Linked DNA regions of Homo sapiens. The protein of the gene in region 1 purifies or fractionates together with the protein of each later gene. This does not show direct contact. Each region holds a gene or a part of one and is shown in the gene's direction. Other genes may lie near its edges. The genes, in order: SORCS2, DCAF10, TTC1, FNDC3A and TMEM169.

Region 1 (3,500 bases):
TGCTTACCCATGGGGTCTGCTGGGTGCACTTTGCGGAAGTCCCCATCCTTCTGATTCTCCTGTGAGCCGGGAGGATGGGGAGCCGTGCTCTCTCTCGACCTGGGCCCTAGTTTCGTCATCGTGTTTCGGGTGTCAGCCCTGGGGTGCAGAGGAAGGGCCTGGAGCCAGTGGGATGGGCTCCTTCTCTTGAAGTGCTTGTGGTCCAAAGCGGGGTGGGGGCAGAGAGCCCCAGGGATGCAATTCAGGAGGAGCGAAGTGGGGCCGGTGTGGAGGCACAGTGCAGGGAGAGCAAGGTGGGGCAGGGGAAGCTCAGTTCACCTGGGGAGGGGGTCACATGGGCCACAGGTGGAGGAGGATGAGGATGACTGGCAAGGCTGGGGAGGTGTGGCTGAGGGGAGCAGCAGAGATCTCTGAGGTGTAGAGGGCAGGTGAGCCTGGTGGAGGGGCTGCCCGTGGCCATTGCCTGTGCTGTGAAGCAGGGGCTCCCTGAGCAGGGCTCCTGCCCATGGTGTTTCCTGGCTGGGGTCCGAGGGAGGCTGTTGCTGTGGTCTGGCCTTCACAGACTCACTCTGTGGCCTGGGTGGGGCGGGCCGCTCTGGGATGGGGAGCTGCGTAGACCCGCTTCCCTGGCCTGGGTGGGGCGGGCCATTCTGGGAAGGCAGAATACAAACTCTGCCTTCGTTTGTATTCTCATCCAAGTTCAACAGATGAGACCTTGACTGTGGATCCCCCATGTTCTGTCCTCTCTCTGCACCCCCTCAAGTGCTGGTCTGTTCCTGTTGCCTCTGAGGACCCCTGAGAAGCTCCCAAACCCACTCTCCCACTCCCCAAAATCAGTTCACCTGACCTAAGGTGCCCTGCCTTGCTGGGTCCTTGCCTGAGGGACCGACACTCCCGGGGAATGCGAGCAGGAGGGGTTATGGGATAGAAACTGGCTTTGGGCTGGAAGTCCACCCCTCTGGTGCACAGTGGGGAAGCGCAGAGGTGGGGGAGGCTGGATTGTCTTCGGTTGCCCCGCGTGCAGGGCAGCAGCGTGGATGGGCTCTCGTGCTGCTCTGGAGGCCCTGATCCCCCCTCGCTGGAAGTGCTCAAAAGGAGGCTCCATGTCCATGCTCCAGGCCACTGCAGGGACTTTCGGTTTGGGGTGGGAAGCGGGACCACCAGGGGCCGACTGAGGGGTCCAGAGTTGTGGTTGTGAGCCCAGATTCCCAGCCGGACCCAGGGGTGCACTCCATGCTGTTCCACATGGCCTCTGGCTCTGACCCCGGGGTCCCTCCCCTGCCCTCCAACACATTAGTGCTGCCTTCCCTCTCCTCCCTGGGGAGCCCTGGGTTCTCTCCCTGCAGCGCTCAGCTGGGCACTCACTCCTCCCTTCCCATCATGCTGGCCACCCATGTAGCCAGTCTTCCCCAGGCCTCAGTTTCCCCATCTGTAAGGTGAGCGTCAGGACCAGACCATCTCCAAGGTCACTACCAACCCGGACGTTGTTTATGCTTAGTACACATTTGCTAATTTATTTGTATTTTATTTATATGAATGGAGACCGGGAATGAAGTAGAAGAGACTTTGGAATGCCCAGCCCAAGAACCTCACCGCAGCCTCTTTCAAGTAGTAATGAAGGAGGCAGATTTCCATGAGAGTTGAGCTTCAGGCACAGCTGGTCTCACCCGTGCCTGCTGTTCACGCTTGGATGAGGACTGAACCTCTCTGAGCCTTTTTCCTCATTTATCAAATGAGGATCATGGTTCCTGTGTGTCAGGCCAGTGCTGGGGCCACACACTCCATGGATGGGGGCCTGGCCAGCAGAGCCACCAATGTCCTCCTTCATCTTATTTCCTAAGAGTGTCGACCTCACTTGCATCTTCACTGTCTTCTTGAAACTAGCTCAAGGCCCGGCTCGTGGTGGCTGTTGGCCTCAGCTCTTTACCGAGCTTCTCTGTGTGCCTAGCGCTGTTAGCTGCTGAGGATTCAGTGAGGGGCCAAGTCAAACTTGGCCCCTGCGCGGGTGAAATGTTTGGTCTGGACAGGAATTCACCCCAGCGCGTTCTAGGTGCCGTGTGAATCTGCGCTGGGGAAGTCTGGGAAGATTTCCTGGAGGAGGTGAAGATGGAGCTGCTCTGCAGGATGAGTAGAGTCCCGGGCTGAGGAGGAGGTTGGAATGGTGAGAATATTAAGGCTGAAGGAGAGGCCTAGGGGCTGGAGCAGCCTGGAGCGCTCATGGGCACAGGAGAGACTCGTGCGTTGATCAAGAAGCCTGGCTCGAAGTCATAGAGACAGCCCTGTTAATAAAGTTGCTGAGCACATTTCACAAATCCACTTTTACTTTAATAAAGGGCGATTTAATTTGTAGTTGCGTGAAGGTTCCTGAGAGTATTCTAAAGAGGTCATAAATTAGCCTCATTCCTCGGCACGCCCCTCAGATGAGAAGGCAGCCCAGAGCTTGCGTGGGCCTCTCGGCGTAGCCGTTACTTTATTTTATGGTGATTTTTCAGAGTCAGGCTAAGACTTGTGCAGATGATTCGATGGAGAGCAGACTGGAGTGACGGGCGAATCAGCTGGGACGCTGCCGAGAACCCCTGTGCCTTTTCCGGTGCAGGAAGAAATGGAGGGGAAGCTTGTACGTTGCCTCCTCTTTTGGGGCCGCCTTGTCTTTCTTTTTTCAGACTCCAAAGGATGAGTTATTTATAGGTTCTTACGAATGGCCCACTTTGTCCTCGCCCCTCCTTAGTCGCTAGTTTGGGTGGGTGCTCTGTGGATTGCAGGGATGCCGATGACCTGAGAAGCCTGGCTGTGCTGCAGCTGCTGTTCCTGACCGACGTCCTCCCCTTTTGGAAGTCCAGGGAGCAGAGATCCCTGGCTCTGGCCACCGGGAGGGCAAGGTCTCCGTCTGTAGCTTTGGAAAGGTGAAGGCATGTGTTCTGCATTGGTTCACATCCTGCTTTTTCTTGGAAAGCGCCGTCCTGGATGTGAGCTTGGATTCTGGGTGTAGAAGAAGTGCAGACATGGGGCTGTCAGTCTAAGTGGGTGGTGGGGGTGGGGAATGCCCTGTACCTCTCTCCCCGCTCCCAGCAGGTTCCCACAAGCACAGACCATCCCTGACCTGCTCTGCAAGGCTGTAAAACACAGACTTAGGCAATTTGCTCACTGCTGATTGATATGCAGCCCGCTGAGGGCAACAGCAACGTCTTTTCCATTCAGCCTCATGACTCGGGACCGCTTCCCAGAAGGCCTATGGTGCTTGTCACCTCTATTCCAATTAAGCTCCATTTGTCATTAAAAAAATGGAATAGGGATACTTGAGTGAGTGAGGACTCTCCTTGGAAGACTGGAATAAAAGGTAAAACTCCAGTGTCCTTTTGAGGTGGAAAATCTCCTTCTTATTTTGCATTTCTATAGCAGTCAGTTACTGTATTTGCACAGAAAATTACAATCATTTAATTAGTTTCTTCTCACACCAGCTCGAAGATCTTAAAATAACAGCACTCTCCTTCCTTAGTAAT
Region 2 (6,755 bases), on another chromosome or scaffold:
AAAAATGAGTACGAAATAAATTAGTCAAGATAGGGTTGGGAAAGGGATAGAAGTATTTCAGATGGAGATGATTGGTATGTCAAAGGTCGTAGAAGGGCAGCATATCATGTTACAGGAGGTGAAAAAAAATAGGTTTACAAAGCAAAAAATTTTACTGAAGAAAGACCTGAAGTTGCTAAGGAAGGAGCAAAGGAATAGAAACAGGAGTTACTGTGAGCAAGTAGACTCTATTCCATTTCAATGATGGAAGCGCTTCCTAATCACACGTGGTGCTGGGGTCTCTGGGGTCTCAACAGCAATTGGTTGGAGCATGTAGCAGTGGATGCACACCTGAATAAGGTGGAAAACTGGTGAGAGGAGAAACTATTTTGCTGAAACTTATTCATGGAACCTCGCAGCCTCCTTCCTTCAGCCAAGCCCTATTCCTAAAGTTTCCCTCAAAACACGAACAGTCTGTCCTCAAATATTCAGTTTCTCTCTTCATATCCCGGCCCCTCTCCTCCCAACCTCCTACCGATACTTTCAGGAATTCAGAAGCAGCTATTTCTACTTTTTGGATGTGGGATTTTAGGTGGGAGTATAATGAGAAGAACAGATTTTAGAGCTGTTAGAATAAGGGATATATTGCTTAGTTTTTGTTTGAATCTAGAATGTATTTTCTCATAACAGTTTTGTAAAAGGTGGTTAGGAACTCTTGCACTTAATTCCATAATTTTAAATTACACAATTAACATATATGCTCATTGTGTAAAACCTAGGCAATAAATGAGCAAAAAATACCTAAACATTGCTTATGATCCCAGAGATTAAATGGATATCTAAGGAAATTTTTAATTTGTGTATGTTTATTTTAATATAAACATGGAATCACTGTTTTGTAGCTTGCTTTTTTTCTTACAGTAAATTGTGAACTGCTTATGTTAATAAATATATTTCTACAACATTAACATTTTTCATTAGTTTAAATAAAACCTCTTTGAACAAATATTTTATATTTATATCTTTAGGATAAATCCCTAGAATGAGTTATTGTTATGAAGATTTTTATATCTATTGTTAAATTGCCCTCTGCAAAGATCATACTAATTCTCATTACTATATTCTGATTCCTACATTCTAGACACATGCCTGTCTCCTCATACCCTTGGCAACACTGCATACTGCCATTCTTTTTCATGTTTATCAGGGTGATGAGTGAAAATACTTCAGTGTTTTAATTTTTCAGTCTTCTTACTTCATCTAGTATGCCCTACATTTGTGTAGGACTTAAAGTAATTTTACAGATAGATGACATATCCGTGTTAAATGAGGTAATTTCTCATATCTTTCAGTTAAATATGAGTTAAATCAGCTTACCAGGTAGCATAACCACTGTCACCCTCAAGGACTTCTCAATACAGAGAAGGAGGGGGTGACACAGAATGTAAAAATTAAAATTATGAATTTAATAGAGACCACAATATAAGGAATTTGGCAATAAAAAAGATAAATGGGTTAGAAGGTATTTTCTAAAGAATTCAAAAAATGTTTTAAGTGATAGAAACATTGTCAAAATAAGTGTATCACCTTCTAAAATGACATTTTGAAAAAGTAAAATTGATAATGTTAATAAATTATAGTATGTCAGACCCTGTCAAACTGTCCTCCATGAGAACACATTAGGCACAGCTATAGAGATAATTCACATATTGGAAAATAGAAGCAAAGAAACTAACTAGAATACAGACCTGGAAAACACAGAGATTGAAAATATGAAAAGGAGATTTAGTAACACAGAGCATAGAGAGAAAAAGCATACCATATAGTTAGCCAGAGTTCCTAAAGAAAATAGTCCCAGTTTCTTCAGGAACTCTGGCTAACTATATGGTACGCTTATACCATATAAGCATATCATATGGTGTAAGGGGGACTATTTGAAGACATAATAGCTGAGAACTTTCCAGAATTGAAGAAAGGCACCAAGCCATGATTTAAGAAGCCCAACAAACCCAAGCAAGAATTCTTTCTAGACATATTGTAGTGAAACTGTGGGACAATAAATATAAAATCTTAAAAGACAGAGGAAAAAGGGGCCGGGTACGGTGGCTCACGCCTGTAATCCCAGCACTTTCGGAGGCTGAGGTGGGTGGATCACCTGAGGTTGGGAGTTCGAGACCAGCCTGACCAACATGGAGAAACCCTGTCTCTACTAAAAATACAAAACTAGCCGAGCGTGGTGGTGCATGCCTGTAATCCCAGCTACTCAGGAGGCTGAGGCAGGAGAATCGCTTGAACTTGGGAGGTAGAGCTTGCGGTGAGCCAAGACCGTACCACTGCACTCCAGCCTGGGCAACAAGAGCAAAACTCCATTTAAAAAAAAAAAAGTAGAGAAAAAAGGCCTCAAAGGAGCAACTATGAGAGTGATAGCCAATTAGTCTTCAACCATAATATAAATATAGAGACAGTGGTAATTATTTCAATATGCTAGGAAAAAACCCTCAGTCTAGATTTATACCCAACAAACATAGGTTCTTTGTCCTTGCCAAGAACAAAGATGAAATAAATACATATTCAGACAAGGAAAGCTGAGTAAGTTTGCCAGCAGACCTCCAATAAAGGAATTCTAAGTTCAGAGAGAAGGAAATTATTTTCAAACGGAAGGTCTGAGAAGCTAGAAGGAATGAAGAACAAAAAGTGTTAAATATGTATGTACATGTTAATCTGATAATGTCTTTTGGGATTAATAGAGATGGAACAAAAATAGAAGACAATAATAGCATATAAATTATGAAGTGAGGCCGGGTGTGGTGGTTTATGCCTGTAATCCCAGCACTTTGGGAGGCCGAGGCGGGCGGATCACTTGAGGTCAGGAGTGTGAGACCAGCCTGGCCAACCTGATGAAACCCTGTCTCTACTAAAAATACAAAAAAATTAGCCTGGTGTGGTGGCATACACCTGTAATCTCAGCTACTTGGGAGGCTGAGGCAGGAAAATCACTTGAACCTGGGAGGCAGAGGTTGCAGTGAGCGGAGATCACATCACTGCACTCCAGCCTGGGTGACAGAGTGAGACTCCATCTCAAAGTAAAATAAAAATAAATGATAAGTGACATTCTAAGTTTTTATGTATTTGGGGGGATAATAATATATGTTAACTTTGGGCTTTAATAGGTATTTAAAATTTTCAAGGAACCAAAAGACAAGAAAGATTATAATTTCCAGACTAGTACAAGAAAAAGTACAGAATGAGAAAAAAATTCCAAAAGAAGGCAAGAAAGGAAAAGAAAAAAAGACAAGATATAATAAATAAAAAGCACAAAGAATAGCTGAAAATAAATCCAAACATTACTAGTTGCAATAACTATAAGGTACTAAATATTCTAATTAAAAGACAAAGAGTAGCTTGGCGCAGTGGCTCACGCCTACAATCCCAACATTTTGGGAAGCCAAGGCAGGTGGATCACTTGAGCCCAGGAGTTTGAGACCACCCTGGGCAACATAAGGAGACCCTGTCTCTACAAAAAGTACAAAAATTAGCTGGTTGTGGTGACGTGTCCCTTTGTCCCAGCTACTCAGGTGGCTGAGGCAGGAGGACCACTTGAGCTCGGAAGGTGGAGGCTGCAGTGAACCAGGATTGTGCCACTGCACTCCAGCCTGGGCAACAGAGACCCTGTCTTGCAAAAAATAAAATAAAATTAAAAAATAAATAAAAGAACAGTACCTCTTAAAATCTTACTCTTAATGGCATTCGTAGACTACATTCAGGCCTGCTATTCAGCTGATACTGGTTCAGCTATACTAGTTGTTAAAATATTGATATGTCCATAGTGGTTGAACAGTTACTGTCCCAAGCCTGTTAAGTGTCATCTTAATGCTTCATCGCCTTCCTTGGGACTTCCTATAGTAACCAATTATATAGCAACTAAAGAGTTAAGAACTAGGACAGCAAGAGACTGTCAGCAAACATCTCACTGGAGAACTACAGGGCAGCAGCCATTCTAATTACTCCTCACCCGTGCCTGGCAACCTCCAACACACAAAAAAATCCATAGGCCCAGTGACCATCTGGCTTCCCTAAGAGTAGGGCTGCCTACCTTTCTCATATCACTCTCACATGGCCCCTTTGGGAACTACAGCCCCGGGAGATCCAGAAAGAAGAGCAGTCAAATGAGAGTAATAGTACTGTACTACCGCAGTTGCCATCAAAATATATTAATTCTCTTGGCACAGTATACATTCCCATGGCAGGATAGAATCTACAGCAGATGATCGAGGCCTGTGGGGATGGTTTATGGATGAATAACTTCTGGGATGCACATCCTTAGTTTTATCATTCTTGTTTAATTTCCCCATTATTTAGATAGGATAAGTGTGCCAACACCCAATGAATACCTGCCTACAGTAGGCATTAATGACACTCATGTTATAAATGAAAATGACTACCAAAATACATCTTTTTCTGTCTACCAGACACATTTAGTTGGGGGAATTAAGAAGCAGAAAGTTTATTAAATGAAGGTTCTGTACCTTGGTGTATGCTGTTAACTGCTGTGTTACGTTACCTCTCACCTGGACTGAGGGATTAGGTTTAATATAATTAAGTATATCAATAAATTATTTTTGTGACTTAGTTATTAATATATTTAAACAAATATTGACTATATGAAACTAACAGCAAGCATTTGAAGGGCTAAAAACATTTTAAAATATACTTACTGTTACTTCAGCAAAAGCCAAAAAGAGGATTCAGCTCCCATGAACAATTCTGTTGATGTTAAGAGTGATTTCTTTTTTTTAGGCCAGGTATGGCAGCTCATGCCTATAATCCTAGCACTTTGGGAGGCTGAAGGTGGAGGATTGCTTGAGCTCGAGTTCAAGACCAGCTGGGGCAACATAGGGAGACCTTGTCTCTACAAAAAATTTTAAAAAGTGTGATTTTTTTTAACGTATCATGACTACAAGTTATTTAATGACTATAAATTTAATGTGGACATTCTTAGAAGGGCTTTATCTAGTTTCCTATGTCAATTCATGGTTCAGACAAGGGCATCTGTGTCAAATAAAAGATTATGGCTACAATTTCCAAAAATTAATAAATGATTGAAAATTACTAGAATGATTTAATGAACAATTTGAGCTACAATGGTTATCACCTGGTGAGCATTTTTATAATCTATATAGGTTAATTTATTTAGAAAATGTTTTTAAATTTTATTTATGTTAATTTATATTACCACTGAATTTTCTTTTCTTTTCTTTTTTTTTTTTTTTTTTTTTGAGACAGAGTTTCACTCTTGTTGTCCAGGCTGGACTGCAATGGCGCGATCTTGCCTGAATGCAACCTCCAGCTCCCAGGTTCAAGCAATTCTCCTGCCTCAGCCTCCCAAGTAGCCGGGATTACAGGCATGCACCACCACGCTCGGCTAATTTTGTATTTTTAGTAGAGATGAGGTTTCACCATGTTAGTCAGGCTGGTCTTGAACTCCTGACCTCAGGTGATCCACCCACCTCAGCCTCCCAAAGAGCTGGGATTATAAGTGTGAACCACTGTGCCTGGCCTGAATTTTTAACCTCTTTGAATATCACACTTAACTGTATGTAACAGCCGCTTCATCCTTATATTTTTCAAACACACAAGGAACAGTTATAAAATTTTCACATATGAGACCACAAGTTTCAAAAGATTGGTATCATACCGAATACAGTTTCTCACCACAATGTGATCACTAGAAGTAAATAAAAAGATAACTAGCTGGCATGGTGGTTCATACCTGTGATCCCAACACTTTGGGAGGCTGAGGCAGGTGGATCACTTGAGCCTGGGAGTTCCAGACCATCCTTACAAAAAATACAAAAATTAGCCAGTTGTGGGGCTCATGCCTATAGTCCTAGCTACTCAGGAGGCTGAGGTGGGAGGATCACTTGAACCCCGGAAGCAGAGGTTGCAGTGAGCCAAAATCGCGCCACTGCACTCCAGCCTGGGCGACAGCCTGGGCGACAGAATGAGACCCTGTCTCAAGAAAAATATATATATTATATTATGTAAAAGTATATTATATATAATATAAAATATATATTTATATAATATATAAATATATAAAACATATATTTATATAATATATTATATAAATATATAATATATGTAATATATAAAATATATAATACATAATATATAATATAAAATATATTTATATAATATAATATAAAAATATAATATATTTATATAATATAATATAAAAATATATAATATAAAATATAAATATATTATATAATATAAAATATAAATATATATTTATATATTTATATTTATATATAAAATTTATATATAAAAATATATAAAAATACATACATAAAATATATATTTATATAATATATATTATATATTTTATATTTTTGGAAGTCAAGAGACAAGTATAATTAAAAAGATAACCAGAGACCTGGCACAGTGGGTCACACTTGTAATCCCAGCACTTTGGAAAACTGAGGTGGGAGGATCTGGCAGGAGTTCAAGACCAGCCTGGGCAAGGAAGAAAGACTGTCTACAAAAATTTAAAAATTAGCCTGGTGTGGTGGCATGTGCCTGTGGTCCTAGCTACCCAGGAAGGTGAGGCAGGAGGACTGCTTGAGCTTCAGAGTTTGAGGTTGCCACTGCATTCTAGCCTGGGTGACAGAATGAGACTCTGTCTCAAAGAAAAAAAAAAAAAAAGATAACTAGAAAAGTCTCATTCATTTTCAAAAAGAATTGATAAATTCATGGGTCAAAGGGGAAATTATAAT
Region 3 (6,755 bases), on another chromosome or scaffold:
CCATTATATAGCAGTTTTGTTTTGTTTTCCCCCAGCTTTAGCGTCACCTCCCTCACTGGGCAGCATGGGGGAGAAGTCAGAGAACTGTGGGGTTCCAGAGGATCTGTTAAATGGTTTGAAGGTTACAGATACTCAGGAAGCCGAGTGTGCTGGCCCTCCAGTTCCTGATCCCAAAAATCAGCATTCCCAGAGTAAGCTGCTCAGGGATGATGAGGCCCATCTCCAGGAGGACCAGGGAGAAGAGGAGTGTTTTCATGACTGCAGTGCCTCATTTGAGGAGGAGCCAGGAGCGGACAAGGTTGAGAACAAATCTAATGAAGATGTGAATTCCTCTGAACTAGATGAAGAATACCTAATAGAACTGGAAAAAAACATGTCGGATGAAGAGAAACAGGTAAGTATTTTATTTATTGTGCAAGATCTGCCACTTACACTGCATTTTAAAATGTGGTCGATACTGTATCATAGACCACCTCATCTGTGGTAAAGAATAACTTGCCCCTTTGTCTTCTTATGGCTTTAGTAGTGTTGGATCTGAGATAAATCGGTGGCGTGACAGGGAAGCACTTGAGTGTGTCTGCTTAACAAAGAAATTTTCATTATTTTCTGTGAACCTTCAGTTATGTTCATCTTGTACTTCAGGAGTCTGTAATGTAACAGTCTTTTTGTTTATTTTCAAAATGTATATATACTTTTTAGTTTTCTGTTATGAACTTTTCTACGGTTGGCTGCTGAGATTTCTGTAATGAACATTTTTATGTTTATGCTACATTTATGTTTATGAACATTTCCTGTTTATGCTAATCCCTTGTTAGCAAAATATGACTGCCTGAATATCTTGGTGGGGTTTTGGTTGCAGAGGTCTTGAGAAACAGAATTGTGTATGATTATAGCTAGCTATCCTTTGTTGAATGCCTACAATGTGCCATCCACTGACTTAAAATGTTACTTGTGTTTTCATTAATCATCACAACATGCCTATGAGATACATACTGTTATTTCCCATAAGGAAACAGCTTAGAGGGATGAAGTAACTAGCCCAAGATCAAACACCTAATGAATTGCAAAACTAATTCTCAAATCAAATCTGTTGGATTCCAAAGCTAGAGTATAATGTATAATGTAATAACAAAAACATCTGTCTTCCTACAAAGCAGATAGACTAATAAAATGTACACTCTCCTGTTTCTTTGCCCTGGGGCCACACCCTTAACTGGGCAAGCCTTCACTTTTGGAGACTGAAGTCCTGCTGTCCTACTTCCTTCTGATTGCACAAGCAAGGTAGTCTCTGAAGAGTTACTGTAATGTCTTGAGTTTGTCTACAAAGAACTTGAACTAGATTGTAGTTTATGCCACTAAGGAGCTCACTCACTGAACAGGTTGTGATACATTGGTATTGAGATGAGATAATAAATGTTCAGCCTAAGCCTAACAGTGGGGGTGGGAAGGTAGCCTGGGGTGGGTAGGAGCATCTTCTCTTTCTCTCTCCTTAGACGCTTTTCATTATCAAATCAGTTAGCTTTAATGTGAACGTGTTCGTTTTTGTGCTAGTGTGCACCACCAGAACAGGAGGAAAAAGGGCAAAAGTGAGCCAAGTTCATAAACTACCACAGCAAATACAGCTCAAAAAAATTAACTACTGTTCCATAACATTATAACAGGTTTCAGGCTTTTTAGAAACACTGATTATGCATCTATGTTAAAAAGTTAGTAGTGCTTTTCTGATACCTTAATATATTTTGCCCTGAAATTATATTAATTTTCTAGTGCCCTCTGGATTTGACAGTTGAATGGTTTGGCTCAAGGTGTCACAAAGTCTGATCCCTACCTCTAATTTAGTAAAACTTTTTTTGTGTCTCCTAGGCCAGAAAATCATACTTTAAGTTCTATAAATACTTTTATGATTTTTTTTTTTTTTAAGACAGGATCTCACTGTGTCATCCAGGCTGGAGTGCAGTGATGTGATCACGGCTCACTGCAGTTTCAACCTCCTGGGCTCAAGTGGATCCTCCCACCTCAGCCTCCTGAGCACCTGGGACAACAGGCTTGCACCACCCTGCCTGGCTAATTTTTGTGGGTTTTTTGGTAGAGACAGTGTCTCACCATGTTGCCAAGGCTGGTCTCCAACTCCTGGGCTCAAGCAGTCCTCCCACTTTGGCCTCCCAAAGTGCTGGGATTACAGGCGTGAACCACCACACCCAGTGAGGATAATTATTTTTATTGCCTGTAAGTTTAATATTCTAAGTAGAACAATACTTTTTTTCACTTTTTTCCTCCTTTTAAAAATTGAGATATAATTTAGTGAAACTGTATATCAGTTCTCATGTGTAGAATGCAGTGAGTTTGACAATTGTATACACCTGCATAGTTCACGTTTCTATCAAGATAGAGAACATTTCCATCATGTCAGAAACTCCATTTGTGTGCTTTATCAGTCATTCCTTTCCCAACCCTGCCAGTCTCTGGTTAACCACTCTTCTGATTCCTGTCCCATAGGTGGTTTTTTCCTGTTCCAGACATTCATATAAACATAATCATACAGTAGTATTCATGTTTAAAACATAAATATTTTCTATTCATTTATATATCAGTCTAAGTGTTTTCATAGCTAATTTGAAAATTTGTAAGAATATCTCATAACAGTAACATACTGCAGTGCTAGTCTTATTATTTAGAGAAATGTAAGCCACTGACTCTACTTTAAGGAAACAACCTATAAGAGTGCAGATTGCCTTCAGCTAACTGTGGTACTACTCTTATTAGGTGTTTGTATGCTATTTTGATAAATATCTTTCCAAAATTTTCAAGAAGCCAGCGAAACAGATTGAAGAAATGTCTTCTACATATATGGTTTGGCTTTAATAGCTCATCAGAAACAGGATAGTGTTATATTTGAATCTTTTAAAATAAAGTTCAGATAGTTCAACAATGACTAAAAAAAAAAAATGGCCAAAAAATGTGAAAAGACTCAGCCTCATTAATAATGATGAAAAGTACAGGCTGGGCGTGGTGGCTCATGCCTGTAATCCTAGCACTTTGGGAGGCTGAGGCGGGCGGATCATGAGGTCAGGAATTCGAGACCAGCCTGACCAACATGATGGAACCCCATCTCTACTAAAAATACAAAAATTAACTGGACGTGGTGGTGTGCGCCTGTAATCCCAGCTACTTGGGAGGCTGCGGCAGGAGAATCGCTTGAACCTGGGAGATGGAGGTTATAGTGAGCTGAGATCAGGCCTCTGCACTCCAGCCTGGGTGACAGAGCAAGACTCTGTCTCAAAAAAAAAAAAAAAAATACTAACTAAAACATTATGTCTCATCTATCAGATCAGAATATTGATCTGATGTTGACAAGGAGAGGATGTTGGAACTCATATACTAATATTGAGAATTTAAATTGTTATGTCACTTCATGGGATGCAGATACCAAATTTTTATGTGACCATTTCTTTAGATAGGGCTATCAATAGACTCTTCTACAAGGATAGGAATGTTCTACATCCTGCACCATGCAGTATGGTAGCTGCTGACTACATCAGGCTATTGAGCACTTGAAATGTGGCTATTACGGCTGAGGAACTGAATTTTATTGTAATTAATTTAAATAGTCATACGGGATGGCTCACACCTATAATCCCAGCACTCTGGGAGGCTGAGGCAGGCAGATCACCTAAGGTCAGGAGTTCGACCCGAGACCAGCCTGGCCAACATAGTGAAACCCCATCTCTACCAAAAATTAAAAAATTAGCCAGGCCTGGTGGCGGGCTCCTGTAATCGCAACTACTCAGGAGGATGAGGCAGGAGAATTGCTTGAACCCAGGAGGTCGAGGTTGCAGTGAGCCGAGATTGGGCCATTGCACTCCAGCCTGGGAGACAAGAGCAAAACTCCGTCTCAGAAAATAAATAAATAGTCACATGGGCCAGGCATAGTGGCTCATTCCTATAATCCCAGCACTTGGGAGGCTGAGGCTGGAGGATCACTTGAGCCCAGGAGTTTGAGACCAGCCTGGGCAACATAGTGAGACCCTGTCTTTCCAAAAAAAAAAAAATTTTTTTTTAATTAAAATTTTTTAAAAAGCCTTTAAAAATAAAAATAATCACGTGTGGCACAAGCCTGTAGCCCCACCACTCAGGAGGCTGAGGTGGGAGGATCCCTGGAGCCTGGGAAGTCAAGGCTGCAGTGAGCCATGATCACGCCACTGCACCCCAGCCTGTGCAACAGAGTGAGACCTTGTCTCAAAATGAATAAATAAATAATTTTAAAATCGTCACATGTGGCTAGTAAGTACCATATTGGACATGACAGCATTAACGCTGATTCTCTTGTAGCCATTTATTTCAAGGAAATTATTAGAAATATACACAAATGTATATACATAGATGTGTTGCAGCATCATTCATAATTTTGGAAAGCTAGACAATGTTAAACAGGGTATTTGTAGTATAGTAAATTTATTTGGTCTTTGTCCCTGGTTCCTGTTACAGAGCCACTAGAACCCTTGGAATTTTCTGATAGTGTAGTGTATTTTTTTGTTATTCTTAATGTACCCCTTTTGATAACACCTGAGTTCATCCTAATGAGATAACTTTTAGGATCTGGCCTATCTATAGCCTAAGGAAGGATGGGGCCAGTCACCAAAAAGACTAAGTGATTAGAGTTTTAGAGGGTTGGAACTTTTGGCACCACCTACCAAAATCCAGGAAAGGAGGAGGGCAAGTGCTGGAGATTAAGCTCCATTAAAGCTTTTTTCTTCTTGTGTTTTGAGCCAAGTCTCGCTCTGTTGCCCAGGCTGGAGTGCAGAGGTGCGATCATAGTTCACTGGAGGCTTCAACCTCCTGGGCTCAAGCAATCCTCCTACATCAATGTCCCAAGTGGCTGGGACCACAGGCGCCTTCCACCACACCTTGCTAAATTTTTTTGTGTTTGAAATGAAGTCTTACTATGTTGCCCAGGCTGGTCTCGAACTCCTGGACTCAAGCAATATTCCCATCTCAGCTTCCCACAGTGCTAGGATTACAGGTGTGAGCTGCTGCGCCTGGCCTATAAAAACTCTTGAACTAGAAATCTGATGAGCTTCCAGGTTGATGAGCACATGGAAGTGTTAAGAGGGTAGCACCCAGAGAGGGCGTGGCAGCTCTGCACCCCTTCTCCCTCTACCTTTCCCTGTGTGTCTCTTCACCTGGCTGTTCTATATCATTCATAATGTCCTTTGTAATAAACTACTAAGTGTAAGTAAAGTGTTTCCCAGAGTTCTGTGAGCCATTCTAGCAAATTATTGAACCCACAGAGAGGGTGGTAAGAACCCTGTGCTAACCATTCAGTCGGAATCATAGGTCACAACCTGGGACTTGTGATTAGTGTCTGAAGTGGGGCCAGGCTTATGAGACTAAACTCTTAACCTGTGGGATCAGACACTGTCTACCTGGAGATAGTGACAGAACTGAATTGAATTATAGGACACTCCGTTGGTGTCCATTGGAGAATTGTTTAGTGTGGAAAACACTCTCATCTGGTGTCAGACCTATTGGGAGGGTATAGTAGGAGAGAAAAATGTGTTCTTCCCAGAGTATTACTTAAATTTTGTTGTTATATTTATGTAGTATACAATGCAGTTGTTAAAGGTAAATCTTGGCCGGGTGCAGTGGCTCATGCCTATAATCCCAGCACTTTGGGAGGCCAAGGTGGGCAGACCACTCAAGACCAGGAATTCAAGACCAGCCTGGCCAACATGGTGAAACCCCATCTCTACTAAAAATACAAAAATTAGCCAGGTATGGCGGTGCACACCTATAGTCCCAGCTACTTAGAAGGCTGAGGCACGAGAATTGCTTGAACCTAGGAGGCGGAGGTTGCAGAGAGCCGAGATCACGCCACTGCACTCCAGCCTGGGTGACAGAATGAGACTCTGTCTCAATAAATAAATAAATAATTTAAAAAATTTTTTTAAAAAGATGAATCGTAGGTATTGACCTGGGAAGCTGCCTGTAATATAATGTCAAATTAATTAATCAGGTTATACAACAGTGATGATTTCTTTTAAGGCTATGTGAAAATATGTTTATACATACAAATTTGAAGGATATACACCAAAGTATAAGCAGTAAGTAACTTTGAGAGGTATGATTATTAGGGAATTTTAATTTATATGTAATGCAATTTTGTAATATTTGCTTTTTTTTTCAGTAAGCCTGTATTACATTATTCCATTTTAAGAATATAAATAAATAAAAATTGATTACTTTACAACCAAACTGTGTGCCCTACCACAAAAGCACATGAAGCTGACCCCTGATGATTTGGGAAAGAAGTGCTATTCCGTACAGGGTCTATGTAGTATTAAAGGTTTCTTGTTGGACACAACCAAATAATAGTAGCCAAAGTCTGTTAATCAAGCTAACTTCACTTGTCCTGTGGCTGGGAAGATAATTCACGCTCAAGTGTAGTGTCACTTCTCAGCAGGACTCATAAATCAAGAATAATTGAGGAGGAAAGCAGTTAAGATTTGGTAAAAACAGGAAAAGCTCTCAGAGAGTATAGTGTATTCGTGTGTTTATTTCAGCAGTAAATCTTAACTATTTGTGAAAGCTTAAATGTAGATATAACTACCCACAGGAATGGAATTTTAGCTAACATTTGAGATGTACTAGGTATGTGAAGCAAATAACTGGTTCTGAGAGGCTTGGCTAAGGTGAAGGACAAATGTAGCAGCAGAAGAGAATTGCAATAATAACATTATGATACAAAAATTCTATCT
Region 4 (6,755 bases), on another chromosome or scaffold:
AATCAAAAATAATGGGATGCATTCAACTTATAGATAACATATTAGGAGAAATATGTATGATATTCAACTTCATTGAACAGTTCAAGTGGGTAATGTATTGGAAATTTTATATTATCATACTGCTTTTGTAAATCTCTAAAAAAACGTCACCAAGTCAACTAAAAATCTGCCTGGGAATTGAGAATTCTCTTTTTTCCAGATAAAGACAAGGAAGATTAAAATAGAAACTTAATCTCATAGCTCAGGTCTCTATGCCATACTTGGCAAATTTTATCAATATGACTTTAGTTAGAAATAATTTGTAATGAAAATTGTGATGTTCTGAGCATCTTTTAAAATGTACATTAACAAAACAGTATTCAGAAACAAAGCTAAACCGGAAGCCTGAGAAGAAACAGTTATGGTCGGACATGAAATTTAGTAACAGACTTTTGGTAAATCATGTCAAATTGGGAAATTTACCAAATATCCTATTTTTCTTAATCTGATGAAAAACAGATTTATTTTAAGTGACATAGAGTTCCTGGCATCAAACTTTTGGGGTAACTTATCACTCCTAAATAATGTTCATAACTGTGTTTTTATACTAGTTTGTAAAACACTTTAATAAGGTATCATAAGGTAGTATAAGGTTTATCTAATAGTTATTTCCATTTTAGGTTTGTATCCCTATACAGAGGACCATGTCATACATACAAAGTACAAAGACTTAATGAGTCAACATCCTATAAATTCTGTATTCAAGCTTGTAATGAAGCTGGGGAAGGTCCCCTCTCCCAAGAATATATTTTCACTACTCCAAAATCTGTCCCAGCTGCCTTGAAAGGTAAGTTATACATCCTGAACTTATTTTCTTTATAATAAATTACTTTTTAATGTATTTTCATAAATGCTTTGTTTACTGATATTAAAATTTAGCATCCAGTATATGTCCACCAGTTATACAAAATCGTATAGGCAAGCCCAACTCTACTGAGAGTTCCACTCAATAATAAAAGCTGTTTTATCTGGCACGCTCATATTCAGACAAGTACTGGCTTTTGTCACTGATGTTTTTAATAATGTAGCATAAAAATACTAAATTGAATAGGAAGGCTGGTTTTCTAATGAGGTCATTTGCTTAAAGAAAAAAATCACAAACTCTGGTTGTTTAAACGTTTTGAGTTATTGATATTACATTCATTTGGATTTCAGAAGGAAAGCTTGGTCATCTGTTAAGCAAAACAAATTCTTCATTAATGTGGGTTTTTCAATTAGTTTTACACACACATGTACACATATTTACACACATTTGTATATACATTTATCTTTTAATTTTAGAGGGGTTCTTATTTTAAAGTGACTCTGGCAAGGGCTACACTCTATTTTTAGCTGAAAAGTCTATAAAGTTAATTGCTCTGAAGACTAATCACAGAGACTTCTAGAACCATATCCTAGATCATGTACTTAAACCTATCATTTGTTAAACAGCAGAACTCTTCTTGACTAGTCTTTCTAATAATATTGAGTTTCACTGAGTCATTTTTCTGTTTGCTCATCAAGTTTAGTGTCTCTTAGCTTTAAGAAGAGTGCTGACTATAAGCAGGGCACAGTGGCTCACACCTATAAGCCCAGTGCTTTGGGAGACTGAAGTGGGAGGCTCACTTAAGGCCAGGAGTATTGAGACCAACGTGGGCAACATACTGAGACCTGCCTCTCTACAAAAGAAATTTTGAATCAGCTGGGCATGGCAGCATATGCCTGTGTGTGTAGCTGCACAGGAGGCTGAGGCTGCATTGAGCTATGATCGCACCACTGTTGTCCAGGCTGGGTGACAGAGTGAGATCCCATATCTTAGAATACAAGAGTGCTGATTTTAACCTCTTTGGATGCAAATTTCAAAAATTCACTGATACTTATTTCAAGTTTATAAGTGGATTTTAAATATTTGTTGATTTTTATTAAGACAAGTGTCTGCATGATGTACCAAATTAAAAATCAAGTGGAACAGATATTATTTATATTTGTTTCCTACAGCCCCCAAAATAGAGAAAGTAAATGATCACATTTGTGAAATTACATGGGAGTGTTTACAGCCAATGAAAGGTGATCCAGTTATTTACAGTCTTCAAGTTATGTTGGGAAAAGATTCAGAATTCAAACAGGTATGTACCAAGATATTAATGTGTGGATGCATATTTTTACCCTTTTTTAATTTTTATGTATTTTCAGTGTAAGATTTGGCCATCTTTACCTTTTAATTCATAAATATTTATTCAGTATATATTATGTTCCAGAGATCTCAAGATTCCAAATCTTTTCAGTATGAACTACACTTGAACAGATTATTCATTTATCTGATAAGTATTCATTGAATTCTGTGCCAGGCACTCAGGATATAGCACTGAACAAAAAGTCCCTTGCCTCCATGGAGCTTACTTACATTCTGGTGGAAAAGAAGACACTATAAGCAAGTAAACATGACAATATATTGTCAGATATAAGTGTAATGGAGAAAAAACAAAATTGGATAAAAGAAATAGGGAGTGGAGGGGGAGGGCACTGAGTGTTATTTCATTTGGGGCACTCAGCTGACATTTCAGCATGGCCCAGAGGAGATGACTATGGAGAGAAGAGTGTTCCAAGAAGATACGCTGAGGCAGGAACATGCCTATTAAATCTGATGAACATAAAGGAGCCAATATGACTGGATGGAGAGAGCAAAGGGAAGAGTTGATAAGGTCGGATAGTTAATCCTAAGGGGCCTATAGGTGGTATGGAGTGACGTAAGGCATAATAGGCCATACTGTGGCTTTTACTCCACGTGAAATGAGAAGACAGTGGAGGATTTTGACCAGGGTATTCACGTGATCAGACACAACGTTGTTTTGACTATAGTGTTGAAACTACAGTAGGACAAGGGCAGAACTAGAAAGACTAATAAGGAGGCTTTTACAATAATAGTATTAATAATAGTCATAATGCAGTGCTGTAAATATGACATTAGGCATGAAGTTATAATGGAAACCTAGAGGAATTGTCACCTTCCTAGCCAAGAGGTTTCAAAGATAGCTTTCTGATAAAGCAAGAATAGCAGTGAGATAGAGTGGAGTGTTGCCAATGTTTGTTACAACTTTTAAAAAGAATAAGCTTTTATACCACTCCAAAGACTAATTAAATACCTATACATTTCACCTGATTTTCCCTTTTTCCTGTAACCTTAATTTTGAGGGCTTTTAAGCTGGGTTGTTTTCATTGTGTCTTATATTTTCCTCTTCCACTAAAAAAAAGATCCTTCATTTGTTTTATTCCAGTATTGTGCTATTGTAACCACTCTATGTAATATCTTAACTGAAATTACAAAAGATCCAAAGAGTCAGATTAAATCTGGCATGCAATTGTTTTTCTTTATTAAGCCATCTGCAAATTGACAGGATAATTAGATTTGAAATGTAATTTACAGATAAGTAGGTTTCCTTCTAAGGAGGAAGCAAAATTAATATTAAAGAAAATATAATTGTATTACACGTTTAAAGGAAATAGGGATTCCACATTTGAGTAGTATATGAATAACCTTAAGGCTTGTTTGAATGACTTTTCTTGGGTGTATAAACCTTCTGAAATTAGCTTGAGCAGGTTAATCTGTTTTCTTCAGTCCTGTATTTACAGTTACCTGTGTCTCTTCCTGCTTAGAGGTCTTCCCACATCTGAAATACAAAATTGAAAACTTGATCCCATCATCTTCCCTCCCAGTATCTCCTCTCCAACATCTTTACTTCATCAGTGTCATAGACACCAATATCATCTTGGTCTCCAAGCTTTAAATTCTTAGATGAATTTTTTTTTCCTATCAACTCTTAATCAGAATTTGTTTCTAAATCCATAAAACTACATCAGGGCCTCATCACTTTTTACATGTACATCAAGAGTCCCTGTCCTACTCAGCTCCCTTCAGTCCTTCACACAGCCTCACGATTAGGATTCCATAAACACTGTTTTAATGTCACACACCTACAGTGGTCCCTTTTGAATTAACCTAAATTTCCAACTAGTGTAATTAATGTATTCTTCCTCTTTGTACCAGATCTCTTATCACCCTCATGCCATTTGTTGAGGTTTTTCTTTCTTAACCTAATACTGCCAGGCTCATGGAATGGTATATGAAGACACATGGAAAGTATAAAGACAAAAATCATCTATTATATCCATAAGACAAATACATATTTTTAATTTTTACTCAATTTACTTCAGTGTTATGTATACAATTTTACACTACTTTATCATACAACATTCTGTTTTAAGTGAATCCTTTTACAGGTTGAAGCATCCCAAATAAAGTCCAAAATTCAAAATGTTCCACCCAAAATCTGAAACTTTTTGAGGATCGATATGACACTCAAAGGAAATGCTCATTGGAGCATTTCCAATTTCAGATTTTTGGGTTTGGAATGCTCAACTAGTAAATATGCAACTATTCCAAAATCAAAAAAATTGAAATGCTTCTGGTTCCAAGCATTTCTTATAAGGGATACCCAACCTGTACCATCTCCCAAACATGGATCATTTCTACATTCTATTCCCTGAAACATTATGCATCCTTAGAACTAATGTATAGTCACCATTTTCTTTCAGATTTATCTTAAAGCTTCTTTCAGTAAGTTCCTTTATATATTGTTATCAGCATCCACATTTTTATTTATTGCCAATAATTCACTAATTTAATGTCCTTTTATTAAGTACCTACTATATGCTAGATTCTGGAGACAGAAAAATGAGACAGAGATCTTACTTTACTTTGAGAGCAAAGCAATATGTAAAAATTTAGATTTACATCACAGGTACAATTGAGGCAGCTAAAAGTACTTGAAAGCCCCCATGTGTTGGTTCTTCTGACTTGTAGCCCACCAACTAACTGGAGAAACTCAACTGACAAGTCATTTAACCCTATGAACCTTGGTTTTCTCAATTACAGAATGAGTGGTGGGAGGTTGCTCATTATTGGAAATGATAGCTCCTACAGATTGAGCAGTGACTGCATGCTGAGCACTGCGCTAAGTGCTTTAACAAGCATTAGTTCATTTCATCCTCATAATTATCATACATGTTAACTACTAGTATGTCTGTTATACTAAGGTAGTTGGTCTAAAATCACATCTGGAGTGTGAAGTGGTAGAGCAGACCTTGGATGCCAGGGGTGAACAGTTCTAGTATATAGCTTCTTATTTATGCCTAGTGTTCCATTATTGGAACACTAAGCTTGTGGTAGTTATTTATATCTCACTGATCAAGGTTATTGCCAAGGTCTGATTTTTCACAAAAAAAAAATTTGCAACCTCTGGCATAAATGGGTTAATTACTAGCACATTCCTCTGAAAATCCGTGGAATTTCATTCTTTTTATTTCCCTTGTGAGGCATGGCAGAGGAGGTCCTATTTTCTGATTCTAAGTGATCTCCCCTCTCTGGTTTATACAGTGATTTGCCATAGGCACCTATAGAAAGCTCCCCTTATTCATTTTCCATTTCATTGTACAGATATGTTTGAAATTATATGGAAATTTATCAGTTATACAAAGACATAATGGGGGAAGCAAAAGTAGACACTATCCCTTCTTTGATGGAATGATTGCATTGAAAAATGACTTCTTACATTTGAGAAAAGCAAGAAAATGCTTGAGGACCGATTTTGCTTGTTCTCTAGCTGCCCTGGGGCACATCTGCACTCCTTAATTCATCTGTGAACCGTATAAGGGTAGATCCTCGCTTTTGAAATTTCTCTTGCCCCTATGCAACAAACAGATAAGTACTTTAATGGACAGGTATTTTTAACATGTCATTTAAAAGATAAAATCAATGGCATTCACTGGCTTTCACATGAAAAACAATTCTAACACTAGCCAGTTTTAACACATTTTCTGTCCAGCCTTCACACGTAATTCTTCCTTCTAATATTTTATTAACAGATTTACAAGGGTCCCGACTCTTCCTTCCGGTATTCCAGCCTTCAGCTGAACTGTGAATATCGCTTCCGTGTATGTGCCATTCGCCAGTGCCAAGACTCTCTGGGACACCAGGACCTCGTAGGTCCCTACAGCACCACAGTGCTCTTCATCTCTCAGAGGACTGAACCACCAGCCAGCACCAACAGAGACACTGTGGAAAGCACAAGGACCCGACGGGCACTGAGTGACGAGCAGTGTGCTGCCGTCATCCTTGTGCTGTTTGCTTTCTTTTCCATTTTGATTGCCTTTATCATTCAGTACTTTGTAATCAAGTGAAAATATAACTTTATTTTTTAACTCTATTACATTTTATTTTGTCATGTACTAAAATTATTTCTGTATTGCTTTTATAAAAAACAGTGGCATTTAGCACTGGCATTGAGACTATAGCACATCATTTTTGCCATTTTCAGTGCTTATATTGTTAGGTAGAGGCTGGCACTTTATTAGAATGCAAGCCACAAAAATATCAATTTTGTTTTTTTTGTTAGGGTGGGTCTTCTTTTTTTCTTTCCCTCTCTCTTTTTTTAACAAATGCCTTCTTATAGAAAAACTTTCTAAGAGGCAACAATTTAGAATGGATATTTTGACGAATCGGCATGAGTGTAACAGTGATAACCTGATCTGTTTGTTTTAAAGATTATTACCAAGTGAAAAATTCAGAATGAATAGAATTTACACTAACATGCTATATAAAATGTTAAAGTCTGATGCTGTGAAAGCAATCTAGTGCTATATTTCTACCTCCTCATTTGTCTTAATTATTTGGTAAGTGG
Region 5 (6,755 bases), on another chromosome or scaffold:
AAGGCTCAATAAATGCTAATTTCCTGGCCTATTTCTCATCTTTGCAAGTGACTTGCGCGTGTGCGTGCGTGCATGTGTGTGTGTCTGTGTGTGTACAGAGGTTGGGAGTGGGGAGAAAGGGCAGAAGATTGCAGGATGAACTGGATATGAGTGGCTATAAACTATTTGATAGAAAAGCTTGGTTGGAGAAAAATGAGATTATCAGAGAGAGTAAAGTGGCAAGGTAAAGTTATTTTTTTCTAGATAAGGAACTCTGAGTTTGAAGGCAAAGGGGAAAGAGCCAGTAGAAGGAAGTTGGAGCTATTGGAGAAGGAGGAAATCAAAGATGAGGAAGAGATGGGGATCAAGAGTCAAGTTGGGGTGGTCAAAGAAAATACCTGTTTTCAGACCACTCATGCTGGGGAAGGCCAGCCACTGTTGTAAGGACACTCAGATGGCCCATGGAGAGGCCCATGTGGAGAGAAACTGAGTCAGCATTACATGAGTGAACCATCTTGGAAGCAGATCTAGCCTCATTCAAGCCTTCAGATGACTGCAGCCCTGACATCTTTAGAGATCTTGAAACAAAACCAGCTAAGCCACTCTCACACTTCTGACTCAGAGAAACTATTTATAGGAATCCCACAGAAATGTTGAGAAAATTCTATTCACAGAATACTAAAAGGTTCAGAAACCATAAAAACAAAAAAACACTTTTGGACCTCCAAATTCTATAGGCAGGAAGCAGGTAGAGAAGACTACTCACCACCCAGCTAAGGCACTCCCAGTTTATTGACGCACATAATTGTGTGAGATAATAACTTTTTTATTGTTTTAAACCTTTACTTCTTGGGTAATTTGTTACATCACAACAGATAATTCATATTCTTGTACTGTGACATCTGATATATTCCAGACTTGCAGGAAACTAACAGTAAAAAGGATCCCCAAATTTAGGAAAACACTGTTTTTACAGTAGCCTTGATAACAAGTAGCCACCAGAACTAGTTTTAAACATGTTCAATCAACAACTGCCTAAGTGAATACATTTTTGAAAGCCATCATCAGAGTGCCAGACCCTGATTGGCCAAAAGTCAACTCACACTAGTGTGAAAGTCAGCCAAACAGGGACAGAGCCACTCACCTGATTGACTTTCAGAAACAAAGGACTGACTGGATGGGTTAATTTCCAAAAACATGTTTGCTGAGTGTTATGGTATGGTTTGTTTTCCCCCCAAATCCATATGTTGAAATTTCAGCCCCCAAAGTGATGGCATTAGGTGAGGCTTTATGTCATGACGGTGGAGTCCTCAGGAATGGGATTAGTGCCCCCATAAAAGAGACCCAGAGGCTAGGCTCAGTGGCTCACACCTGTAATCCCAGCACTTTGGAAGGCCAAGGCGGGCGGATCATGAGTTTGAGAGCAGCCTGGCCAATATGGCGAAACCCCATCTCTACTAAAAATACAAAAATTAGCTGGGCATGGTGGCGTGTGCCTGTAGTCCCAGCTAATTGGGAGGCTGAGGCAGGAGAATTGCTTGAACTTGGGAGGCAGAGGTTGCAGTGAGCCAAGATTGCGCCACTGCACTCCAGCCTATGCGACAGAGTGAGACTCCATCTCAAAAAAAAAAAAAAAAAAAAAAAGAGAGAGACCCAGAGAGCTAGTCAGCTCCTTCAGCCACGTGAAAACACAGTGAGAAGGCACCATCTATGAACCAGAAAGTGAGTCCTACCAAACCCCTAAACTTGATCTTGGATTTTTTGCTCCCAGAACTGTACAAAATAAATTCTTGTTGTTTATAAGCTACCTAGTCTATGGTATTTTCTTATGGCAGCCCAAATGCACTAAGACACTGAGGGAGATTGTTGTTGATCAATTGAACAGGTTTAAAACTGGTTCTATTGTCTACTTACCATGACTACAAAATAACCCATCTTTTCCTAAGTTTGTGGGAATGTTTTGTAGTCTCAAAGGATAGTGTTCTAATTGTAGGGAGATGAGGAAATCATGTTTCAAGGTAAATCAAGGACAGTGTCTCTGTCCTGTGACTACTGTAAGTAGACATTGGCTGGGCACCTTTCTAAAATGAGCTGTGCCTGAAGCAAAAATAGCCCCCCTAAGGTGAATAGCCAGGAGCTCACCCTTTACATTTCATATTTCTTGTCTAAGGTTTTAATGGGATGTTCAAAAGTCATCTCTCTTTTTGCCTCTGATAGGATTGTCCCTCTCCTCCATCAGCCAACAAGATGACCATGTTTATCTTTTATATCCCCAAGAGACTCCAAAGCTTCTCTTAGCTACTATTTTCTGTACTAGTCTGTCCCTGGGCTCAGGAAGCTCTTCCTGTTATCTAACATTGGCCTCTCCCATTGTGCCCAACCAAATCAAGAGTGTCGAACACTACACCTTTTTATGTTTTTTTTTAATTAAATTAATTCTTTTTTTGAGTGATTCGCCCGCCTTGATCTCCCAAAGTGCTGGGATTACAGGCATGAGCCACCGCACTTGGCCACTTTTTAATGTTTATAAGGCCCATTAATAAGGGTCATCATCTCCATGCATGTGTTCACTTTGCCCTGCCACATCTTCCTAGAGCACCACCCCCTCAACAAAGAGAGAGGAAAAGGGAACAAGAAGTATGAGATTTGCAACTTGCCTTCTCACGTGTACTCTTTAACATTTCTGTCTCCCTTCTGAACATCTTGGTACATCTTTAAAGAAGGAGTAAGGAGTACAGAACATAAACCTTCTCCCAGCTCTGAAGCTCTGGTCCTTTAATCTCCTCGGGGTCTCAACCCCTAGTTTGAAAATTCATGCTGTATAGAAGGGCCAAAGAAGGCCCTTCACAAGCTGCCTCAGAAAACAACAGAGAGAAACAGATGATCTAAGTAGGAAAACACGGTGGATTAGGGTGGCCTCCCAAGCTGTGATCATTGCACCTTCAAGTAAGTACAAAGTGGTTTGTTCAGAGGTCATTCCTACCATAGAATTACCATGATGCAGCTTTCTGAGTGTCAGTGTATAAGAGGACTTGGACCAGGGAAAACATTTTTGTATTAAACATAGACACTTAGAGAGTAGAATTACAAATGTATGTATATACACATTTGTATATAAATATACATATGTATAAGTACATATATAGATATACATATATATGTATATCCTGGAACTTAACGTAATAATGAAGTGTGTGTGTGTGTGTGTGTGTGTGTGTGTGTGTGTGTATACATATAAAATCTTCACCTGGGGGTGGATTGCATTCAGCCTCCCCATTCAGTTTCCTCTGGGTAGAGGTCCACTGTCCTCTGTGTAGAAGCCACTTTGGTAGAAGAGCCCTGGTCAAGCTCATCAATGCCCAAGGCCTGCTCAGCATTCTAATGGTTGGATTAATTGTCCTCTGGAGCTATTTACCTTGGGAGGGCTCTCTCCCCTGCTTCTTCCTGTGTACATCCTTGTACTTTTAGACACCTCAGCCAAATGAATCTCCTGGTCCAGAAAGCTCCATGGATAAGAATTTAAAGATAATGGCTTTCATTCTGCCCCTAGTACACCCCCTAGACAAAGTCAGGCAGTGAGGACGTAGTGAAACCTGCCCATTTCATCCTGTGGATCCTACCACTAAGATTCTCAATTGTGTCGCTGGGTGCCTGATTTATTCCAGGCATTGGGTTAAGTGCCCAGTTATAAAGTTAATTTAGATCCAACATCTGCCAATCCAATGGAAAGACAAAGAAAATCAACAGAGGCTAGAGGAAATACTGGGTGAGAGGGCAGCAGAGGAGAACTCCCCTGCCTGGAGGGGGAGAAAAAGCCATTCCATTGAGCTTAAAATTTACCTAAATTTTAGAAACATTGAAATGAGAAAAAAAAATATGTATTCTGGCATTTTAAGAGATATGCTATACAGTACTTCCTGTCACATGGTAATTACCAAAGATATATAAATTTGCTTCAAAATGAATGGAGCCTAGTGGAATTCTAGAGCCTAGTGGAATTTTTGCTTCTTTCTTCTCTCCACTGCCCCACTCCCATCCACTGGGCCAGAACACTAGACATTGGGAACATTTGAATACACATGAGAGAAGAAGCTTTATTATTGGAAATAAAGGGATGGCAAATGGTGTACATGTGGCAGTAAAATAAGGCTCAGAGAGCACTGAAATACAGTGAGGGATTTGGGAGTTGGGAACAAAAGTAACAGCCAGTAACCTGGAGTTGCTGAAGAGTGTACAGCCTCGAGGAGTGTGGGGCGGCAGGGTTGTGAGTAGAAGCTTGCGATTCTGAATAATATGCACAGTTATTTGAAAAGTGGGGAATTTTTTGGTAAATCGCTTGGAAACTTTTTATATCCATAGCGGGTACCACTATAGTTCATAAGTTATTTTTCACAGTATAAATGCCAATAATATTGCATAACAGCAGGACCATTTGCCTCTTTCACTAGGATTAAAACTGGGTATGTTAAAAGTGCATGAGAGTATTCTAGCTAATAAATGAAGAAGTCAGAGAAATGGAATATCATTTTGTAACCCCCATGATTTAATGGGTATAGTCAATGGCCATTAACGGGCTGTTAACTTCACAAAAAGAGTCAACCAGACATTAGGGGACTTCTAATGGAAGTACAAACACCACCTCTAAAATTGTCCTGCCAAACAAAACAAACCATCAACCAAAAAAATTTCAATGTGAAATTGATCAAGACTTTCTATTTAGCTATCAACTCATAACACAGAGTTCAGAGGAACACACTGTGGGGATGCAATCAGCAAAACCCAGGCTATGAGAATCTGCAAGATAAATGACCCGCTTTCTTTAACAAATAAGTTACCAGGAAAAAAAAATGAAGGACAGATATACAGACCTGCACTGTCCAGAACAGAAAGTGGAGAGACACTGTTATTTTAAGGGGGAAAGTGAAGCCTCTCCACCGCTCTTGCAGCACGTGATAGGACACATCCCAGTAACTTTTTGAGATTGTGGGCTGACAAGAAGCCAGGAGACAGATTTCCTTTACAGAATAGCAAGGTAGACACAGTTGGTGAGGTTGTACCATTTGAGTGGCTTGCTTAATGTTGTATTTATCCATTTGAGTATAGTTTTAATGTATGATTCAATAGCCAGAAGTCTGGAATACTGGTCCCAGCCACCTATGGTTCTTTTTTCTTTCTTTTTTTTTTTTTTGACAGAGTCTCGCTCCGTCACCCAGGCTGGAGTGCAGTGGTACAATCTCAGCTCACCAGGCTCAAGCAATTTTCCTGCCTCAGCCTCCTAAGTAGCTGGGATTACAGGCACCCACCACTACAACCAGCTAATTTTTGTATTTTTAGTAGAGATGGGGTTTTGCCATGTTGGCCAGGCTGGTCTCAAACTCCTGACCTCAGGTGATCCACCCGCCTCGGCCTCTCAAAGTGCTGGGATTATATGCGTGAACCACTGTGCCCAGCCTACCTGTGGTTCTTAACTCTCACCTACTGGTAAGGCTTCCTCACCCAACTTCCTTATACTCTGCATGCTCCAACTAGAGGCTGATTTATACACAAAAATCGGTAACACAAGCAGACTATGCTAACTACTTATGTATATAAAATAAAGAAACAATAATTGTTGACTTTCATATGAATAAGGAAAATGCAAATTATGACAACAATGAGATATAGTATTCCTTCACATGGGTTTTGCCAAATATTATATGTTTGTATAAATGACAAAAATATTACTGTAGCAAAAGTTTATTCACTGTCTATTATAAGAGATTTAGATTGCATTCCCAAAATAAAGTATTGCAAGAAGTAAAGGGAGAGGAAGGCTTCTGCTAAGTTGAGGATCGTTTCCCACATTCCTGTCCATCTCACCCCATTTGCTTCCTGTTGATGGCTTTGCTTTCCTATCTTTCAGGTGGAATGCATCCTTGGGACATCTTTGCATAGCCCCATCTAGGAAGAAGTTCTGTGATGTGTGAACTGTGAGTTTACTCAAACAAGTCCAACTCTTTATAAGACATAGGTAGACGTCAGGTCTGGAATGGAAGAGCCAACAGCAGTAGAAGGCCAGGTCCAGCTTCCAAGCCCCCACCAGGGCTCTCTCAGGAAGGCTGTGGCTGCTGCCCTGGCGCTGGATGGGGAATCCACAATGGGGCACAGGAAAAAGAAGAGGAAAGAGTCACGCCCAGAATCCATCATCATCTACCGCTCAGACAATGAGAAAACAGATGAGGAGCCCGGAGAATCAGAAGGTGGAGATCAGCCTAAAGAGGAGGAGGGAGATGATTTCCTAGACTATCCTGTGGATGATGGTAAGTCTCTCTAGCCCACTTGTTTAAAGCCATGGGAAGGAAACCAAAAGGGCATCTTCCAGAACAGACAGGCATATGCTCACTGTCCTATTTCTTCTTGGTGATACATTTCTTCTTGCAATATTACCACCTTTTATTTATTTATTTTGAGACAGAGTCTTGTTCTGTCACCCAGGCTGGAGTGCAGTGGCATGATGTCGCCTCACTGCAACTTCCACCTTCTGGGTTCAAGTGACTTTCCTGCCTCAGCCTCCTGAGTAGCTGGGACTACAGGCATGTGCCACCATGCCGGGCTAGTTTTTGTATTTTTAGTAGAGACTGGGTTTCACCATGTTGTCCAGGTTGGTCTCGAACTCCTGGCCTCAAGTGATCCACCTGCCTCAGCCTCCCAAAGTGCTGGGATTATAGGCATGAGCCACTGACCTGGTGCAATATTACAGTCTTCATTCAACAAATGGTCAGTATTTACTGAGCACC

Evidence for each region.
Region 2: the proteins of SORCS2 (region 1) and DCAF10 purify together in Homo sapiens (affinity purification with mass spectrometry; one large-scale study listed by BioGRID and IntAct). This does not show direct contact.
Region 3: the proteins of SORCS2 (region 1) and TTC1 purify together in Homo sapiens (affinity purification with mass spectrometry; one large-scale study listed by BioGRID and IntAct). This does not show direct contact.
Region 4: the proteins of SORCS2 (region 1) and FNDC3A purify together in Homo sapiens (affinity purification with mass spectrometry; one large-scale study listed by BioGRID and IntAct). This does not show direct contact.
Region 5: the proteins of SORCS2 (region 1) and TMEM169 purify together in Homo sapiens (co-immunoprecipitation; one large-scale study listed by IntAct). This does not show direct contact.

Annotation. Positions count from the first base shown.
Region 1 is NC_000004.12:7,199,038-7,202,537, forward strand, and holds part of SORCS2 (VPS10 domain-containing receptor SorCS2), read left to right. Parts: intron 1-3,500. UniProt on the Homo sapiens protein: The heterodimer formed by NGFR and SORCS2 functions as receptor for the precursor forms of NGF (proNGF) and BDNF (proBDNF). ProNGF and proBDNF binding both promote axon growth cone collapse (in vitro).
Region 2 is NC_000009.12:37,802,425-37,809,179, forward strand, and holds part of DCAF10 (DDB1- and CUL4-associated factor 10), read left to right. Parts: intron 1-6,755. UniProt on the Homo sapiens protein: May function as a substrate receptor for CUL4-DDB1 E3 ubiquitin-protein ligase complex.
Region 3 is NC_000005.10:160,010,465-160,017,219, forward strand, and holds part of TTC1 (tetratricopeptide repeat protein 1), read left to right. Parts: intron 1-35; 5' UTR 36-64; coding exon 65-394; intron 395-4,194; exon of another isoform or gene 4,195-6,755.
Region 4 is NC_000013.11:49,201,141-49,207,895, forward strand, and holds part of FNDC3A (fibronectin type-III domain-containing protein 3A), read left to right. Parts: coding exon of another isoform or gene 1-131; exon of another isoform or gene 132-653; intron 654-659; coding exon 660-826; intron 827-2,016; coding exon 2,017-2,144; intron 2,145-5,940; coding exon 5,941-6,255; 3' UTR 6,256-6,755. UniProt on the Homo sapiens protein: Mediates spermatid-Sertoli adhesion during spermatogenesis.
Region 5 is NC_000002.12:216,089,957-216,096,711, forward strand, and holds part of TMEM169 (transmembrane protein 169), read left to right. Parts: intron 1-5,881; 5' UTR 5,882-6,007; coding exon 6,008-6,278; intron 6,279-6,755.